2 separate regions of the Homo sapiens genome follow, and region 1 is linked to region 2. Evidence: fine-mapped expression QTL. A gene starts in region 2. The other region holds a variant in brackets. All regions are shown on one strand. Distances are between the middles of the regions.

Evidence for each region. PIP is the estimated chance that this variant, and not a neighbour inherited with it, causes the effect.
Region 1: its variant is fine-mapped to the expression of MACF1 in whole blood (TOPMed, PIP above 0.99).

What each region holds. Positions count from the first base shown.
Region 1 is chr1:39,335,676-39,341,053 of GRCh38, reverse strand. MACF1 (microtubule actin crosslinking factor 1) reads right to left here. Exons shown (of 101, transcript NM_001394062.1): 37 at 4,401-5,378; 38 at 3,723-3,872; 39 at 337-552; 40 at 101-250. Among named protein-coding and RNA genes, the nearest start is that of MACF1, 130 kb to the right of the region's middle. The variant AC/C (reference allele first, on the strand shown) is at 2,793.
Region 2 is chr1:39,201,945-39,207,322 of GRCh38, reverse strand. MACF1 (microtubule actin crosslinking factor 1) reads right to left here and starts at 2,628. Exons shown (of 101, transcript NM_001394062.1): 1 at 2,192-2,628. The coding sequence starts at 2,300. RefSeq lists an enhancer at 2,263-2,442.

The DNA of each region.
Region 1 (5,378 bases), 130 kb before region 2:
TCAAAAAAAAAAAAAAAAGATAAATATGGATATTGGTTTGCCTAGCAGGGAAATAAAATTGATACAACTCAAAGGACAAAGAAAATGTGCTTGAGTTTACCTCATACTGTTGGAGGCAGAGGTTCAGGCTGTCAACATCTATTTCACTGTTAGATCCCTTGCTGTTCAGAATAAGATTTTTATTGCCAACCCAGGCTCTCAGATCTTGAAGTCGGCCTTCTAGCTGTGTGTGCTGATTTAACACTTTAGTCTAAGAAATAAATGGAAAATCACATTATGAAAATCTCCCAGCCACCCAGACTTTGTGAGCCTTTATGAATAAAAGCAAAATGCTACCTTTTCTATTTCCACAGCATTCTGGAAGTGGAGTAGCCTGGAATTCCAAGTGTCACTCACAGAGCTGAGAGACTTCTGAAGATTCTTGGCATCTTTCTCTAGAGCCTTCAACAGTTGAGCAGGAACTTCTTGAGGCTGGCTGATGATAATCTGATTCACACACTCCAGCTCCTGACTGACCAAGGTGGTCAGATCCTTTAACTCCCTTTCTAATACCTGAGGGAATAAAGTGGAGTTACCTATAAAAGCAAGACTAGAAACCCTCTGGGAATCAGCTGTGAACACATTTCTCTCTCACCCCATGTCTACACACACTTTAGGGCTTAGAAAATGTTTTTATGTACATTCATTAGTTTACTTGGTTCTCACAATCACTAATTCATGAAGTAGGCAAGGTAGATGTTACTGTTCTGGATTTACAGAAGAGATGCCTCATTGCTTAAAAAAAAAATGTGAATGGTGTCCAAGGTCACCCAGCTGGTAAGCAGTACAGCCAGGACTTGGATTCAGGTTTTCTCACTCAGTGCAGTGTGCTCCCTCCACTGTAACTTGCTGCCTCTCTGAGAGTGTCATTATGCCTTTCCCCAAGGAGCAGCTGTGCAGAATTAATGTGCTACAAAATAAACCGAACGGATGACTCTTCCACTCTAAATTCCAGGGTCATGGAACCAAAGAATACAAAGCTAACCCCAACCAGCTTTTCCACTCATCTAGTCTGTAATATTCTGGTCCTCAACAGATAAGCCGGAAATAAGCTGTGGAAGAACTTGACATAGTTCTTTGGGGCATCATCCTCAGCCCCGGTTCAGCCACCCTACCCAAGGCCACACACTAGATATTGAGAGAACCAGTAAACCACTACAATCTGTCTTCATGGTGACTCCAATCCTATGACAACTCTTAACCTCCAATTTCAGTGAAATAGCCACTCTTCCTCCCTCTCAAGGCTGTCTTTCTACGTTTTTAGGGGACTGGTTCTATCAGTTATCACTTCCTCTCTCTTCTAACTTCAAGTTCTCCCTTTTAATTGGTTCTTTCTCCTCAGTCCAAAACCCATTCAAAACATTCCTTTCAATCCATCTCCTTCAAGTAGTGTCCCACCTCATTCCTTGCCTGTACCTAAGACTTCTGGAAAGAAGGATCTATATTAATTGTCTCTACTTTCCAACCTCCCATTTCTTCCAGCTGCAAGTTAGTTTATATCCCGTCACTCCACTGAAACTGTTCAAAGTCACCAATAACTTTCAGGAGCTGAATCTCCCCTTCAGTCCTCATTGTACTCAATCTCCCTGTGGCAGTTACTAGGGCTGACTCCTCCTCCTTTGGTTTCTGTGAGACGAGTGTTTCCAGGTCTTCTTCAGAGATCTCCAGTTAGACTTTTTCAATCTATTTTTGTTGTTGTTGTTTCTTTGTTGGTCCTTTAAATGGCAGTGCTTTTGAATATATTTTTCTTTCTTTTTTTTAAGACAGGGTCTCACTCCGTCTCCCAGACTGGAGTGCAGTGATGCATTCATAGCTCAATACAACCTCAAACTCCTGGGCTCAGGCAAATCCTCCTGCCTCAGCTTCCTGAGTGGCTGGGACTAGGGTGTATACCACCAGGCTTGGCTAATTTCTTACTGTGTTGCCCAGGATGATCTCAAACTCCTGGGCTCAAGCAATCCTCTTGTCTTGGCCTACCAAAGTGCTGGGATTATAGGCATGAGCCACTGTGACTGGCCCTCAGTATGTTTTTTTTCCTAAATAGTCTGTATTTTGTCCAAGTTTCTTTTTCTTTGTTTTAGCCTCTCCTTTTGTATCAGAAGCTTTCTGGATGCTGAAGTGGAGTGTAATGCCCTAAAAAGCTGACTATAAACTCTGCTGGCTGTAGTCTTCACTGAGGGTGATGGAGCTGGGCCATACAGTTGGGAAACCACTTATATCAGTACCATTAGGTCTTCCCCCTTGGGCTGGTCAAACCATAGCGGGAGCAAGGATATAGCTCAAAATTCAGTATGTATGTGAACTTCCAGTTAATCCTACTGATTTCTGTATGGAATATTTACCTTCAATAAATGGCTGCTCTCCCTAGTCAAGAGATACTTTGAATTACTTTCCTCAGAGAATGAACATCCAGCCTTTCGTTAGAGCACAGCACAAGCAGTTGCCAGGCTATGTGAAGTAAGTTGAAAATCTAAAGGTCTAATTGCTTCTTAAACAGACTTTAAACCAATTATAAGCCCGTTTGCATATCCATTTTCATCTCTTTCTGGTGCTCCCAATTTTTGAGGCTTTGGGGAGTTCTGTAGTATAAATCAGGTTGTTCCTTAGCTTCCTCCACTTTAAGTTGAGGATCTGGTTTACTCTAGCTTGCTAAGGTAGTTATCGCCTCATCCAGCTGCTTTCTAACTTCTAAAATTTTACTGCTGTTTTCTCCTCTCTTGCCCTTTTATGAATTTATGCACTAAAAAAAAAAA[AC/C]AACCCAAAAAACCTTTTTCCTGATGTCTTAGTATAGTTTTAGGAAGTAAGAGAGATTAACTTACATATCTAATCTACTGTTTTAAGCCTCCAACATTTCTTGCTTGAATTACTGCAATAGTTTCCTAACCAATCACTCTGCCTTTGAACTTACCTAAATCAATCCAAAACCACGCAGATAACAATTGGTAGGGCCGGGCGTGGTGGCTCACACCTGTAATCCTAGCACTTTGGGAGGCCGAGGAGGGCAGATCACGAGGTCAGGAGATCAAGACCATCTTGGCTAACACGGTGAAACCCCGTCTCTACTAAATATACAAAAAATTAGCTGGGCGTGGCGGCAGGCGCCTGTAGTCCCAGCTACTCGGGAGGCTGAGGCAGGAGAATGGCGGAAACCCGGGAGGCAGAGCTTGCAGTGAGCCGAGATCACGCCACTGCACTCCAGCCTGGGCAACAGAGTGAGACTCCATCTCAAAAAAAAAACACACACACACAAAAAAACACAAAAAACAAACAAACAAGAAAAATTAGCCAGGCGTGGCGGCAGGTGCCTATAGTCGCAGCTATTCGGGAGGCTGAGGCAGGGGAATTGCTTGAACCCGGGAGGCGGAGGTTGCAGTGAGCCGAGATCACCGCTACTGCACTCCACCCTGGGTGACAGAGCAAGACTCTATCTCAAAAAAAAAAAAAAAAAAAAATGGTAGTAATTACATTGATAGCCAAATCCAAGGTCTGTTCAAGTTTATCCTGTATAAATTTTATCCGGTCTATCCAAATGTAGCCCATCCCATAATTATCTGACAAGGGTCTGAGATTGTTTACCCTAGAATAGAGTGCAAGCAGGTTCTAGTAAGTCTTGAAATCTTCAAGGAAGATGGAGGCAGCTATCTTGAAGCTGGTGTCTGTGGTGGAAGTCTCTGGGAACCTACCTTGGCCTGACACAGCAGATCCTGTAGTTCTGCCAGGTTTAGCTCCAAAGGTTGAATCTGTTTGGTCCTCATTTCAATGTTCCGTAACAGAGACAGATAGGATACTAGCTTTTCATCATGTTCTAAACAGAGTTGCCGGGTAAATACATTCTGTGGAGCCAAAAAGAAAGCTGACTCAGTTCTGACGTTCTCCTGTAAGTCAGCTTTAAAGCAGGCAGGGGTTTTTGTTAGACAAATAGAAGCAATTTTTACTGCACATAGAGTGGGATAAAATAAAACACTTTGTTTAAGTCATTTCAAATCAATAGACAAAGGTGATTTTACCAATTTCCTCAGAGAGCAGAAGCTCAGAGCTATCAATCTACAAGCATCATTTTACCAAAATTTCCAAAAGCTATTCTGATTTCAGGTAGCATCATCCTAGTATTTCTATTAGCTCGTTTCTATTTAAAACCCTTGCAGATTTCAGAAAGACATTCAGAGCCAATGCCTAATTTTCCAACAACTTTGCTACAAACAGATGATGATAAACTAAGTTATATCTTAGAGAATCATCTAGTGCCTTAAAATGTATAGAGGCATACAATTACACATATGTAAACTCTGTACCCAGTTAAGAATTTTAGCATTAAACTAATTGTATCTTTAGGAAGAAAAAAAAAAAAGCACACCACTGACCTGAGTTGCTCTGAAGGGCTCTGGGTTTACACCTCCATTTCCCTTTCCTTCAGGTGCAGTCATGAAGGGAGTTTGTTCACTGCCAGGGCTTTCTCTGAGCTTTTCCTGTGGTGTCTTCTCTGTCTTCACTGCAGAGCATACTGTTAGGGACACTGTCTTTTCTTCACTGGTCTCTAGAACAGTAGGACTAATGATGGCATTCTGTTGCCCTGTATTCTCTTTTTGAGACACTCCTTTGAACAGTTTCTCTGGAAGAAAGGATCCCAAGACTCTGGAACCTCTCTGAGTCACTATGTCCTCAATGGATCCTGCTTCTAGACCTGCAACATTAGGGTTTGCCATTTCTAGAAATTTCTCTCCAGTTAGTTCCTGTGTTGCTATTTCAGATTTGAGAGTTCCACAAAGTTTATCATCACTTTTGCTGCCCTGATGATGAAGGTCTTTTCTGTCTGAGAATTCTAGATACCTGACTTCTTTTGAATCTGGTCTAGAAACTGTGATTTCTTCCAATTTAAGACCTCTTGCTGGGTCAAAAGATACTTCTTGGTATGACTTTTCTTTACATTCATTAGATGAGGAAATTTGATGTTTGGTTTCCTTAGTTTTCGAAGTAACCCAGGAATCTTGATAGTTGGTCTCCTGTCTGGTGGTTCCTTGGAAAGACTTGTCTGTTTTGGAAATTTGGGATGGGCCTGTCACTTGGGCTTTTCCATCTGATTCCTGGTAGTGCAATCCTTCAGGTCTTGGGGTCATACAAGGGAATGGTTCACTCTGGGCCCCACAGGCAATTTCTCGAGATAAGTTTTCTTCTGGTTTTAAAGTCAAGCAGAGACTTAAATTGTTTACTTTTCCTTCATTGGCCTGTTTAGAGCTGAAGAGTGTTAAAGCATCTAAATGTTTTACAGAAATTCCTTGAGGTACCACTTGGGAAGAGGACTCTTCAATTTTAAAAGTAATAGAAAATCCCATTTCTGTATC
Region 2 (5,378 bases):
TGGATAACAAGAGCAAAACTCCGTCTCCAAAAAAAAAAAAGAAAGAAAGAAAGAAAGAAAGAAAAAAACAACTATGAACATTCCTCATAATATGTAAACACAAATAGAAAAGTGAGACAAAAGAACAGAAACTTCTGGTACACATACTAAACCAGTAATACAGTATTACTACATAGAGATGAATTAATTACCCACTTCACTATTATAATAGTTCAGTTAACACCTGAGCTCATACAACTGAGCTCTGCCTGAATCATTATTATTACTATTATTAGGCACAAGACCTATGTGCTATAGTTTGTTCTGCAATACTGTATGTAACTCCAATTAAAAAAAAAAAAAAGACTACATCAGAAGAAGCGATCTTTGTGTTTTTAATCAAGTGTACATTTATTAATAGTACAAATATATACACAGAGATGGTGGAAAAACTTTATTCTGTGATGTCCAACTGGCAGGTAATTAGAGTGTACATATTATTTTTAAAAATACATTTTTAAATAAATGAAATGCATCTTAAAATTGCAATTATAATAAAATGGGTACAGAATCTCGTAAGTAACTCCATGGAAGATTTGGAATCCATAGCCTCCAATTGAAAAATGACATCTCTCATTTTACAGATAAAGCAAACGTAGCACATTCCCGATATAACTATTTGGTATTAGAATCAAAGTTGTTTCATAGAAATAAAAAGCTTTTACAATGTATCTTTTTATTTCAATTACTTTATGGCTGTTTATGAAATTAACATTTCTAAACATAAAAAAGAAAGCACTTAAAATACAGTGATAGCTCTTAAGTTCCATTAAAGTCCTATACTGAAGATAAACTTTAAAAATATTAACAACTAATTAGTTATTTAATGTTTAAAAATGACATTACCATAATGCACAAGGAAAGAAAAGCAGCAGCCTCTACCTAAATGATATTGTATTTATTTTCTCATTACATGTGAAATAGTAAATAGGACCAAACAACTTAAGCCTGCCTATCTCTTTCTTTCTAAGTTCAAATACAGGAAAGCCACTTTGAGGTGGCTTTTTTAAAAACACCACCACACAATCAAACACACTTCTAAAATGTCTGTCTTTGTTTCCGCTGCTATAGATGCACACTAGGATCTGAATATTTAGTCAAAAGCTTTTCTGGGACGTACTGGAAAGGACACTGGGGAATGATTGAATCTAATTCTAATTCTGTCAGGCGTTTGTGAACTTTTAATAGAAAGCTAAATAATAAGCCATCAAATCCCCACCTTAACTTGTAAGATACACTATAAAAAGTGTCTACATACCTAAGTTTGAAGGTAGTGAGCCCATCACAATGAGAGTACTGAAGGCAATGAGACCCAAGGGTATACACTCCAGTAAAAGTTAGACCATATGAATCCTCAACCATGGAGACTCAGAATCAGCCAAACTCAGGGCTGATCCCTGCTCTGAGTGTTTAGAAGTCAACAGAATATAACTAATAGCAATATGGGAAGAATGAGGGTTCTGGTGCCATTACAAAAAAAAATTTTTTTTTTAATTATCAAAGCCTGATTCCCTAGGGAAGAGAGGGATTAACTTCCTTGCATTGAACAAGATGATTTGGATACACATAGCCAAACTGTGTAGGAACAGTATCAATGATATCAAAGAGAACACAGACACCCAGTGTTCCAGGATGCCCCTCGGCAAGGACATCGCACGACCCCTTCCACTGACTGACCCTTCCTCCTCTGCCTTTTCTCACCCCAAAACACACCAAGTTAACAGAAACTTCTCCAACCCAAATCTATACCTGGAGGAGGGTAAAAGAGTTACTGTATGTTTTCAGTTAAAAACAAGGTTCCAAGAAACCACTCTGAGATTGAGAAAGAAAGAGCTCAGTTCTCTGAGGAAAGACTAAGTCAGCACAGCAGCCACTTCCCTTCAGTTTTGAGCCCAGTCATCACCTCATCTAACCAGCACTCTCCAGACAGACTCACAGAACAGAAAAGAGCACCACCCCCATCCCAAAGTGGCCCCAGGGCAGACCAGCTTCTTCATTATACTCACACACACACACTCTTAAGTCTGACAGCACCCCAGCTGAAGGACGTACTGGCCCTTTAAGGAAAGCAACTGGGAAGACCTCCATCATTCACCCCACCCTCAAAAGCCCCACAGTAGATTTAAAGAATAACTGGGTACCAGTTAGTTACCTGCTCTACCTCTGGCATGCCTCTTCCAGTATAGAACACCAGCAACTCCAAGAACGTGAGTCAAAATAAAGATGGTTGGTGGTAAATAAGATGAATCTAAGAGGGGCATTTCCAGGCCCGTCCTTTCTCCTCCCTTGAGTTAGCCACAAGCTCAGCGCAGGCCTCTGGATGCCTTTCTCCTGAGGTTACTGTTGTCCTGTACTATCAGCAGAGGCAGAGGCCGGAGCTTAGTGTTGTCAGAAACTTCCTGGCAGCTTCTCCTCCATCTCACTTCTGACTGTTTTTCAGCAGGCGCTAGTAGACTGGGACTAAAACTGTACAGTGTATCTCAGACAAAGCCCAGGAAACAACTGGCCAGCGGGGGAGGGGAAAGGGAAGAAGGAACAAGGAGAGTGAAAAGGAGCGCCTAAGCCAGTGTCAAGCTGACTCAAACCTCTATCTTTGGCATCCTCTGCTCAGCTTAAATAAACAAACCTCAGACCCTTCTACAAGAAGGGAGGGTGTCAGAGGACGTCACACTCTTAACTTTCCATTCCCAGCCTGCCTGCAAGGCCAGACTTCAGGATGTAGCCAGAAGAAAAAAGTCACAGAAGCATTAGGGAACCTCTTGCGGGGAGAAAGCAAAGTACATGAGGATGTATGAGCACCACAAGTACCCTGGAGTTGTCAGAGGGCAAACCCTCCATACCCACAACCCGGGAGGAGAAGCAAGGAGCCTGAACATCAGTCCAGGGAGGATACATACAGAGCAAGCTCCCATGAAGCAGACCTGACATCTAGGTGTGATGAAGATCAGCGAGGAGAGCAAACTGCTCATTTAGGGGGTACTTCTCAAGGGTTAAAAAAATCCGTCTGGCTGGGCGCAGTGGTTCATGGCTGTAATCCCAGCACTTTGGAAGGCACGATATCAGTTCACTGCAACCTCCGCCTCTAGGGTTGAAGCAATTCTCCTGCCTCAGCCTCCTGAGTAGCTGGGATTACAGGTGGATGCCACCGCACCCAGCTAATTTTTATATTTTTAGTAGAGATGGGGTTTCACCATGTTGGCCAAGCTGGTCTCGAACTCCTGACCTCAAGCAATCCTCCCGCCTCTGCCTCCAAAGGTGCTGGGATTACAGGCATGTGCCACTGTGCCCGGCCTTAGACCAGAGGACCCAGCAATCTCACTCCTAGGTATCTATCCAAGAAAAAGAGAAACGTATATCCACACAAAGACCTGTATATGAATGTTTGCAGCAGCATTATTCATAATATAAAAAACTGGAAACAACCCAAATGTCCATCAACTGGTAAATGTATAAACAAATTGTGCATCCATATAATGGACTACCTATTCTGCAATAAAATAGAATAAAACTACTGATACATACGACGACACAGATGATTCTCAAAACTATTATGCTACATAAAAAAAGCCAAACACAAAAGGCTACATACCATATGATTCCATTTATATAACTTTCTAGAAAAGCAAAACTATACAACTAGAAATGGAAGAGGCTGAGAATGAGGGAAGGAAATTGACTAAAAGGATCACAAAATAACTGTAAGAGGATGGAAATGTTCCTTTTGTTGATTGTGGTGGTGGTTCCATGACTGTATACATTTGTCCAAACTCACTAAATCAGGCCAGATGCAGTGGCTCATGCTTGTAATCCCTGCACTTCAGGAGGCTGAGGCAGGAGGATCACTTGAGCCCAGGAGTTCAGGACCAGACTGAGTAACACAGTGGGACCCCATTTCTACAAAAAAATTTTAAAATTTAGCCAGATGAGATGGTATGTGTGTATAGTCCCAGCTACTGGGGAGGCTGAGGTGGGAAGATGGCTTGAGCCCAGGAATCAAGGCTGCAGCAAGCCATGATCATGCCACTGCACTACAGCCTTTTTATTTGAGACAAAGTGAGACCCTGTTTACTTACTTCTAAAGTACCTATTACACTATGATATAGATGAAGATGCTATAGTCTCACAAGCTTTAAAAAATGAAAATTGCTTTATATATCTGTCAAGTTTATTTTTTTCTAATAATAGGGAAGGGTTTTACTTTTTTTTCTATGTGAAATCTTTATTTATTTATTTATTTTCCTTTTGCTTTTTTCTAGAGCTTGTTGAAGCAAAAGGAAAGAGTTTTAGATGTGCATAACCTACTACCCAGAAAAATAATAAAGGGGCCTTGACGGGACCACTAATACAATGGGAACTTTTAAATCTGGCAATAGGATCATCTACAATTTTGTGCTAACCTACATTTCATTCATCAAATATTTACTTCATATTATGTGCCAGGTCATGTTCCAGGTACCAGAAACAATAGCAGTAAACAAAACAAAGACCTTGCTCTCACAGAACTTACATACTAGTAGGAGAAGAAAGAAAAGAAATATAAACAGGTAAATACATAGCTTGTCACATAAATGCTATGGAGAATACTAAAGGAGACGAAGAGGAGATGGAGTGTCAATGTCAATGGGGGATAGTTTACTTTTTTTTTTTTTGAGACAGAGTCTTGCTCTGTTGCCCAGGCTGGAGTGCAGTGGCATGATCTTGGCTCACTGCAACCTGTGCCTCCCGGCTTCAAGCGATTCTCCTGCCTCAGCCTCCTGAGCAGCTGGGACTACAGGCACGTGCCACTACACCTAGCTAATTTTTCTATTTTTAGTAGAGATGGGGTTTCACCGCATTGGCCAGGCTGGTCTCGAACTCCTGACCTCGTGATCCAACTGCCTTGGCCTCCCAAAGTGCTGGGATTACAGGTGTGAGCCACTGCGCCCGGCCAGCACCTAGCCAAGTTTACGGTTTTATATATAGGATGGTCAGAGAAGGCTCGTCTAATAAGGTGACATCTGAGCAGATAAAGAATATGAGGCCGGGCGTGGTGGCTCACGCCTGTAATCCCAGCACTTTGGGAGGCGGAGGCGGGTGGATCATGAGGTCAGGAGACTGAGACCATCATGGCTAACACCGTGAAACCCCATCTCTACTAAAATTACAAAAACTTAGCTGGGCGTGGTGATGGTCGCCTGTAATCCCAGCTACTTGGGAGGCTGAGGCAGGAGAATGGTTTGAACCCGGGAGGCAGAGCTTGCAGTGAGCCGAGATTGCGCCACTGCACTCCAGCCTGGGAGACAGAGTGAGAGTGCATCTCAAAAAAAAAAAAAAAAAAAAAAAAAAAAAGAATATGAGCA